Regions from separate parts of the Homo sapiens genome. Here region 2 is reported to be linked to region 1. Evidence: microRNA targets listed by miRTarBase, many of them from high-throughput screens and not tested one by one. Region 1 holds a microRNA gene; the other region holds the end of a gene's coding sequence.
Evidence for each region. Region 1 holds the annotated microRNA hsa-miR-3684 (UUAGACCUAGUACACGUCCUU, at 1,511-1,531, shown strand). A microRNA usually pairs through its seed, bases 2 to 8, with sites in the 3' UTR of a target mRNA and lowers its output. Matches are read on the target gene's strand: a 7mer-m8 pairs with bases 2 to 8, a 7mer-A1 pairs with bases 2 to 7 and ends in A, and an 8mer does both.

Region 1 (4,150 bases):
CCCCTGCTGGCTCCTCCCGCCCTTGCGGCGAGTCGGGACGCGCTCCTCCTCTTCCCCCCGGCCGCGTTTCCTCCTCCCCCCACCCGCGTCGCCACCGCCCCCTCCTGCCTCCTGGGGTCCCTGGGTCCTCGGGAACCGCGCTGGGCTCACGCGGGGGCGGGGGCGCCACCCGCCGCGGCCATGTGGGCTGGGGCGGAAGCGGGCTGTGCGGGGTCGCGTGGCCGCGCTAGACCTCCGCGTTCTGGGGCCGGTTCCCCGCGCTGGGGCGGGGGCCGCCAGGTGTGCGGGCTGCCGGAGGCAGGTAGCGGCGCCGGGAAGGAGGGCAGCCCGAGCGTCGCGAGCCTCCACATCCGCAGCACCGGCGGGGCTCGGGTCTGGGCGCTGGAGGCGCCGGGCCGTCCGTCGGGTCCCTGCGGGGTGGGGGGCTGAAGCTACCTGCCGGGCTCTGAGAGATGGGTGGCCCGAGGACCGTCGGAGTCGCAGAGAGGAGGAACGCTAGCTAGCTCCAGCCCCACTTCTTTGTGCTTTACTACCGTGCTTTGACACTTAAGCAACTTTGGGGGTGGGGAAGGGAGAGGTCTGTGTAATTCATTCTTTTCTTTCGGTATATAAAATTATTAATTTACAAAACTGTAAGCTAACGGGATGAGTCACCTGTGACTGAATTTCCCAGAGTGAAAAGGACAGTTCCATTGAGGGTTAGGCGTGAATGCTGTAGTGTATTTTAAGTTTTGTGCAGTAGAGCAAACCCAGCGTTGAATGGGGTCCAGACTGAAGCGTGTGCTCGTGTTTCTGTTTACTGAAGAGTACTAGTGTTGCTGCTGCATTTCGAGACCCAGGATGAGGGCTGGGCGGCAATAGTATGGCTCTTAGTTACAGTCCAGGTTTAGTGAAGAGAGGCACATGAATATTCAAATATTAAATTGGTAGCGTCCTGTGGGGAGGAGAGCCGGAATAAAGAGAAGGCCTGATTGGGGCCCTGCCCTTGCCAGTTATTGTGCGATCTTGAATTAGTAAAGTTACTTAATCTTTCTGAGTTCCAGTGTTACACTGTACAGAGGGGATGATTATAGCTTTCTTTGTAAGTTTCACAAGCTTCTTCTGAGACCCAGATTATCCAAGGAACGTGAAATGCTGTTATAATGTAAAGTCCTTTATTTTTTAAAGGATTCTAGTACGATTTAACTCTGCCATAAATAAAAATATGAATAAGAATGAAGGCAGATATATGAACACAATACAAATAATAAAAGTGTTTTCCAACATAAAACATAAAAACGTAAAGATATAAATAAATACAATCTTTACGTCACAATATTTGTAGATAAGCGATTGCAAAAGGTCTTAGCTGTGTTATACAGTCTTGTTTTTAGATAGGATATGATCCTTGACCTTGTTAGTATAATTTGGAAAAACTTGCACGTGGAGGAGTGTTGCTTGATCTAAAAATAGCATTACCGAACAATCTAAAGGACCTGTACTAGGTTTAACATGTTGAGCATTACTCATGTTAGACCTAGTACACGTCCTTTAGATTCTTTAAAATTCCCAAATTCTATCTTGTTGTGGCCTGTGTGGGACCTGAAATTAAGAAACAGTGTTTGCTTTTGACAGTTGTACCATCTGAGTAGAATAACTTTAAAAGTAGGTGGCATTTTGAATTAATATGTATTACAATCTTCTGTTAAGATTTTAAAAAGGTAGTGTGAAACCACATTCATGAAACAGGTAGAAAGAAGGTGAATCACTGGGGTTTGTGGAAAAATGCTAGACAAATTTGTGAAAACAAAACATCTAGGGTTTATTCCGTGTGTTAGGATTGGAGGTATTTACATGTTGGATTCTGCAGGTATATTTCTGGTATCACTGTTAGACATGCACTCAAATATTCCCAGAGTGGCTGTCCCAACTGTCTCTTTTTCTTCATTTCTGTTACCACCTCCTATGGTCAGCTTTTAAAATTTCCCACCAAATCAGTTGTCATACTCTCTTAATTTATTTCTCTACTGTAATTCCTCCCCTTGCAAACAAACGCCCACAAAAAACCCTATCAAACAAAACCTTTTGTACAGAAGTTATTTTTCCCGCAGTCTGATTATGCGTATCCCTCATTGCTTTCAGGATTCCAGCCCCACATTCAGGGCCCCTCTTCTGAGCCTCTTGCTCTAGCCAAAGGCTATGTTTACATTCTTTCCTTTCCGAAGTGTCACCTGTCTTCTGAAATCACAGCTGTTCCCCCAATCCCAGCTTGAGACCTTGATCAAGTCACTGTAACTTATTCTAAGCGCTTTATACATCTGTGATGAAATATGGGCTTGGCTGGGCATGGTGGCTCACACCTGTAATCTCAGCACTTTGGGAGGCCTAGGCGGGTGGATCACCTGAGGTCAGGAGTTTGAGACCAGACTGGGCAACATGTCAAAACCCTGTCTCTACTAAAAATACAAAAATTAGCTGGGCGTGGTGGCACACGCCTGTAGTCCCAGCTACTCAGGAGGCTGAGACACAAGAATCACTTGAACCTGGGTGGTGGAGGTTGCAGTGAGCCGAGGTTGCACCACTGCACTCTATCCTGGGCAACAGAGCAAGACTCCGTCTCAAGAAAAAAACAAAAACAAAACAAAACAAAAAACCAAAAAGAAGAAATTAGGGATTTTCCTTAACACTTCTGTGATCACTAGGAGGTCTTTCTTTCTACTGCTCTGGTCCCTGGCCTGGCTGTCTGGCCAGCTTGTCTTTGGGAACAAACAGAACAAAACTGCAAGAGGCCTTTCTATCACACCATTAACAGAAGTAAGGCATTCCCAGTTACTCTGTCACACCACCTTGTTTATTCCTTTATGACCTTTTGTGCAATCTATGATTACCTCACCTGTTAGAAAAATGAGGATTTTTTTTTTTTTTGAGACGGAGTTTCGCTTTTGTTGCCCAGGCTGGAGTGCAATGGTGCGATCTCGACTCACCGCAACCTCCGCCTCCCAGGTTCAAGCAGTTCTCCTGCCTCAGCCTCGCAAGTAGATGGAATTACAGGCATGCACCACCACGCTCAGCTAATTTTGTATTTTTAGCAGAGATGGGGTTTCTCCATGTTGAGGCTGGTCTCGAACTGCTGACCTCAGGTGATCCACCCTCCTTGGCCTCCCAAAGTGCTGGGATTACAGGCGTGAGCCACCATGCCCGGCCGAGAATGTCTGTTTTTTAGTCGGAAGGTGAACTTCATGAATGATCCTATCTTGTTCACTGCCCTGTTCTCATTTCCCAGTATGATGCTCTGTATGCAGTAGGTGGCCATTAAATGTTTGAATTAATGGATAAATGCATCAAAATAGAGAGGTATACTGCTGTGTTTGAATCACAGCTCCATCATTTACTAGTTATGTGACTTGGGCAAATAACCTCTCTTTTTCAGCTGTATCTTTTTAAAATGGGGCTATTAATAATACCTATCTCAGGGTTTTGATGAAGACTAAATCCAAAGTATGTAAAGCTCTTAGCATATTAGTAAACTTAATGAATGTTAGCTCTTTTTATTGTTATACTGTTTTATGTTTAGGAAAGTAGAAATATTTTATCTAGGATGCTTAATTTTTTTTTTTTTTTTTTTTGAGACCGAGTCTTGCTCTGTCACCCAGGCTGGAGTGCAGTGGTGTGATCTCGGCTCACTGCAACCTCTGCCTCCCGGGTTCAAGCGATTCTGCTGCTTCAGCCTCCCCAGTAGCTGAGATTACAGGTGCGCACCACCACGCCTGGCTAATTTTTTTGTATTTTTAGTAGAGACGGGCTTTCACCGTGTTAGCTAGGATGGTCTGTAACTCCTGACCTCGTGATCCGCCTACCTCAGCCTCCCAAAGTGCTAGGATTACAGGCATGAGCCACTGTGCCAGCCTAGGATGTTTGATTTTAAGGAAAGCTTTTGTTCTTTAGAGGAGTACAACCAGTTTTACTTGAAAATTGAGTTTTCCAAGAGTTCTTGATGTTCGATTGTGTTTATTAATAGAAGTTTTCCTTCCTATTTAATAGTTTATGTATGTCTTTTTCATTTGTGTGTAAGAATTTTTTGAGGACAGAGGGTGTGTTTTACTCATTTTTGTATTTTCCAAAGTGCCTTGCCCACAGTAGGCCCTCATTTCCTTACATGAAAGAAAAGACA
Region 2 (4,000 bases), not on the chromosome of region 1:
TATTCCTGTCTTTCACCCATTTTCTGATTGGATTGTTTCTTCTGTTGAGTTTTGAGAGTTCTTTGAGATTCCTTTATGGGATTTTTGGTTTCCATTGGTCTGTAGCTTATCTTTTTCACCCCTCCCCCTCCCCCCCTTTTTTTTTTCCTGAGACAGAGTCTCACTTTGTCACCCATGGTGGAGTGCAGTGGCACAATCTTGGCTCACTGTATACTTGACTTCTGGACTCAAGCAGTTCTCCCTCTTCAGCTCCCCATGTAGATGGGACTATCACCACACCCAGCTAATTTTTTTTTTTTTTTTTTTTGAGATGTAGTTTCACTCTTGTTGCCCAGGCTGGAGTTCAATGGCGTGGTCTCGGCTCACTGCAACCTCCGCCTCCCAGTTCAAGTGATTCTACTGCCTCAGCCTCCCGAGTAGCTGGGATTACAGGCATGTGCCACCACGCCTGGCTAATTTTGTATTTTCAGTAGAGATGGGGTTTCTCCATGTTGGTCAGGCTGGTCTCAAACTCCTGACCTCAGATGATCTGCCCGCCTCAGCCTACCAAAGTGCTGGAATTATAGGCATGAGCCACCATGCCCAGCCTATGCCCAGCTAATTTTTTATAGAGATGGGGTTTCACCATGTTGCCCACACCTGGTCTCAAACTCATGAGCTCAAGTGATCTGCCTGCCTCAACCTCCCAAAGTACTACAATTACAGGTGTGAGCCACCGTGCCCGGCCATCTTTTCACCCTCTTAACAGGGTTTTATACAGAGCAAAAGTTTTCAGTTTTGATAAAGTCCACTTTACTGATATTTCCTTTATGGACTGTTGCTTTTAGTGTTGCATTTAAGAACAACTCTACCTAGTCTTAGATCCCAAAGGTTATCTGTTTTTTCCTAAAAGAAGTTTTATAGTTTTAAATTTAAGTATGCATGTGAGCCATGTTAATTTTTGTATAATGTGTAAGACTTAGGCTAAAGTTCTTTTTTTTTAATCCTATAGCTGGTCCAGCTGCTCCAGCACCGTTTGTTGAAAGGCTGTCCTTCCTCCATTGAATTACTTTTGCACCTTAAAGTCAGCTGGGCATATTTGTGTGGTCCTGTTCCCGTGATGATCTCGGCTCTGTCGATCTGTGTGTCTGTGCCTCTGCCAGCATTGCACTCTTGGTTCACATAGCTATATAGTAGATCTTGAAATCAGCTGGACTGATTCCTCCTCTCACTCTATTCTTTTTCAAAATATTTTTGCTATAAATTTGTATATGAATTTTAGAATAACCTTGTCTACATCTACAAAACATCTTCTAGGATTTTGATAGGAACTGCATTTAACCTGTATGTTAATTTGAGGAGAATTGATATCTTTACTGTATTCTGTCTAGCAATCCATGAACATGGCATGTCTATTTAAATCTTTGATTTCATCACGTTTTATAATTTTCAGCATACAAGTCCTTGCATATTTTGTTAGATTTAAACCGAAGTATTTCCCTTTTTCAGCAATTGTAAACAGTACATATTTTTAACTTTTGTGTCTACATGTTCATTTCTAGGAGGTAGAAACAGGTTTTTGTGTGTTTATCTTGCACCCGAGATTTTGCTGGACTCCCTAGTTGTCTGCTTTCTGTAGATTCCTAGGATTTCCCACATAGACAAGCATGGCCTCTGCATGAGAATACCTGGATCCTCCCCTCAGGGCTTCTGACTTAGGGTCTGGACATCAGGACTTTTTAAACCTTCCTGGTGATTCTGATAAGCAGCTGAGGTGGAGAACCACTGCTCTTTGACCTTGTCGTCAGTGAGCAGAGGTGCCTTAAGCACAAAAGCCTAGTGCCAGGACCCCGCATCCCGCCCACTCTGCACTCGGCCTATCTTGCTGTCGGCCGGCATGGCTAACAGGCGTGGGCCCTATCAGACAGTCCCTGGTGACTGAAGCATGGGCTCCTCTCGGCCCAGGAAAGACGGCTAGGCTGTAATGGATAGCCAGTTTTAATGAACAGAGGATACTGATTGGTATAAAAAGGTGTGTTTGTCACTGAGGTGTCCTCATTTTCTAGATGAGGAGTTGTCTTCTCCATGGTCTTGAACGCCTGCTTCGCCATGGCACCAGCGTCTGGGTGCACGCTGGCTGTCGCCACAGGGCAGGAGCTGCTCATGGAAAGGTGTGTGCCCCTAGTGTGCAGCACTGGTCAGCTTTTCCACATAGTAACAACAGCCTTGTTCTGGGCCTGAGAAGGCCCCCAAAGGTAGACGAAAAGGAACCATGGCCAAATGCCTATCAATCAGCCCGGTACCTAATGTAACCCAGGACCCATGTGAGGGAGGCTGAGCCTTCACCTTTCAGCCCTTCCCTCAGCATGTGGTTCTCAGTTTAGGGCAGAGCTTCTTAAGATTCACTTTCTGGCGTTTAGGGGCCCAGCCCCACCAGCAGTACAGGCCTACACCAGTGTAATTTGAAACGTACAGACGGTGGAAGAGGAAGTCTAGGGAGCTTGGGTCCTTAGACCACCAGGGAGCAGGGAAGGGATGGGAAGGGCTGGGGGGCGGCGGGGGCTCACCTTCCTCTGCTTCCCTGTGGGCTGGGTTCAGAGCTCCTCAGTGTCCTGGCCTCCCAGGTGGGATCAAGCAGGGTGGGTGCAGCTGCAGCGTTCCAGGCAAGAGCTCAAGCTCCAGTACCAGGAACATAAGGGGACATAAGGGCCTCAGGCAAACTAGGGTTACGGGCCACTGCCCCAAGAGTTGAGTGGGCCACAAGCAATCCCCAGTGCCCAGGCGCTTCCCCATGAGAGCCGCCAGCAGGCAACGGTGTGCCAGGCCGGCCTGAGCGGGGCCAGTACACAGTGGGTGCGAGGCTTCTCTCAAATGCGCGCTCCAGCTCATCAGTCTTAGGGCTTCTGAGGCAACCTAGTGGGTCCTGGACTTCTGTTGCTGTGGGGCCTCAAACCTGTTGAGTAGCCACCTCAGATGACCAGAACCCACCTCCAGAGTTCCTATGACCAAAGTTGTCTAGAGCCGCTCCGGACACTGCCAGGGTTGCTACTGACAGGAATGGGGTCCCCAGAGAAAGCCATGCCCACAGGCATCCACCAGCTGCAGACAGGCCCGGCCCCTGCATGGCCTGCCTTGGCTGCACCTTGTACATCCTGGATGGCATCTGCCGGCCACGGGCTGAGTCCCCACACACACAGACTGGCCCTGGAGAGAGCAAGGCAAGCCCCCTAACCTGGGACAAGTGGACACTGAGGACTCCCAGACCCAGCCCTGGGTGGCTCCAGCTTGGGACTGCTCCCTTAAGGCTCGTTCTTGGCCCTCACTCTCCTCCCCTTCCTGGCCCTCATCTGGACCCGCGCTTTCTGCTGCCTTGTGGTCCTCTGCTCCAGCCCTGGGAGGGAACGCGGCTCCCCTGACACTCGAAGCCAGGGAGGCCTCTCTCTTTGCCTGCTGGGCCCGGTGCCGCTCTTCAGTTCTGCCAGGGCTGCTGAGGCGGCACAGGCCAGAGAGGGAGGAACCAGGGCTGAGGGCAGGAACCACAGAGGTGCAGACGCGGGGGCGGGGCACAGGATGGAATGGTGGCAGTGCGAAAGGCGCGGCGGGGGGCGGTGCTGCGGTCAGCACCGGGTGCGGGGATGCGCCACGTGGGCCTGCAGGGCCTCCCGGATGCCGCGCTGCCAGTCTCGAGCCAGCTGCACCGGGGTCACGGAGGCCTGGGAGCAACGGTGTGGGTCAGTCCCTTGCAGGCGCTCCACCCGCCCTCGGGTCAGGAGCCAGGGCTGCGCCCACACTCACCGCGTTCCGCACCCCCAGCTCGGCCCCATAGAGCAGCAGTAGCTTCATGGCTTTGTAGCTGCCGTGCCGCACGGCCTCGTGCAGAGCCGTGTCCCCTTCCTGCTGAGAACGCAGGCAGTCAAGCTTCTGCCTCCGCGTGCTGCCCTCCTCATGCAGGAAGGTCAGGGCTGCTGTCACCGAGCAGACAGCACCTCTGGTCCTGGCTGGGGCTCCTCAGTCCCTGCTC

Region 2: miRTarBase lists ANKRD23 as a target of hsa-miR-3684. Seed matches in the 3' UTR shown: 7mer-A1 at 2,489-2,495.

What each region holds. Positions count from the first base shown.
Region 1 is chr4:98,995,924-99,000,073 of GRCh38, forward strand. It overlaps MIR3684 (microRNA 3684), which reads left to right and starts at 1,464; the gene lies at 1,464-1,537. All of the region lies in intron 1 of METAP1 (methionyl aminopeptidase 1), which reads left to right. RefSeq lists a silencer at 10-469 and an enhancer at 211-993.
Region 2 is chr2:96,835,953-96,839,952 of GRCh38, forward strand. ANKRD23 (ankyrin repeat domain 23) reads right to left here. Exons shown (of 9, transcript NM_144994.8): 8 at 3,775-3,873; 9 at 1,960-3,692. The coding sequence ends at 3,597. It also overlaps a transcript of CNNM3 not described here. Among named protein-coding and RNA genes, the nearest start is that of ANKRD23, 6.1 kb to the right of the region's middle. RefSeq lists enhancers at 1,373-1,929, 1,930-2,484 and silencers at 3,624-3,683, 3,824-3,923.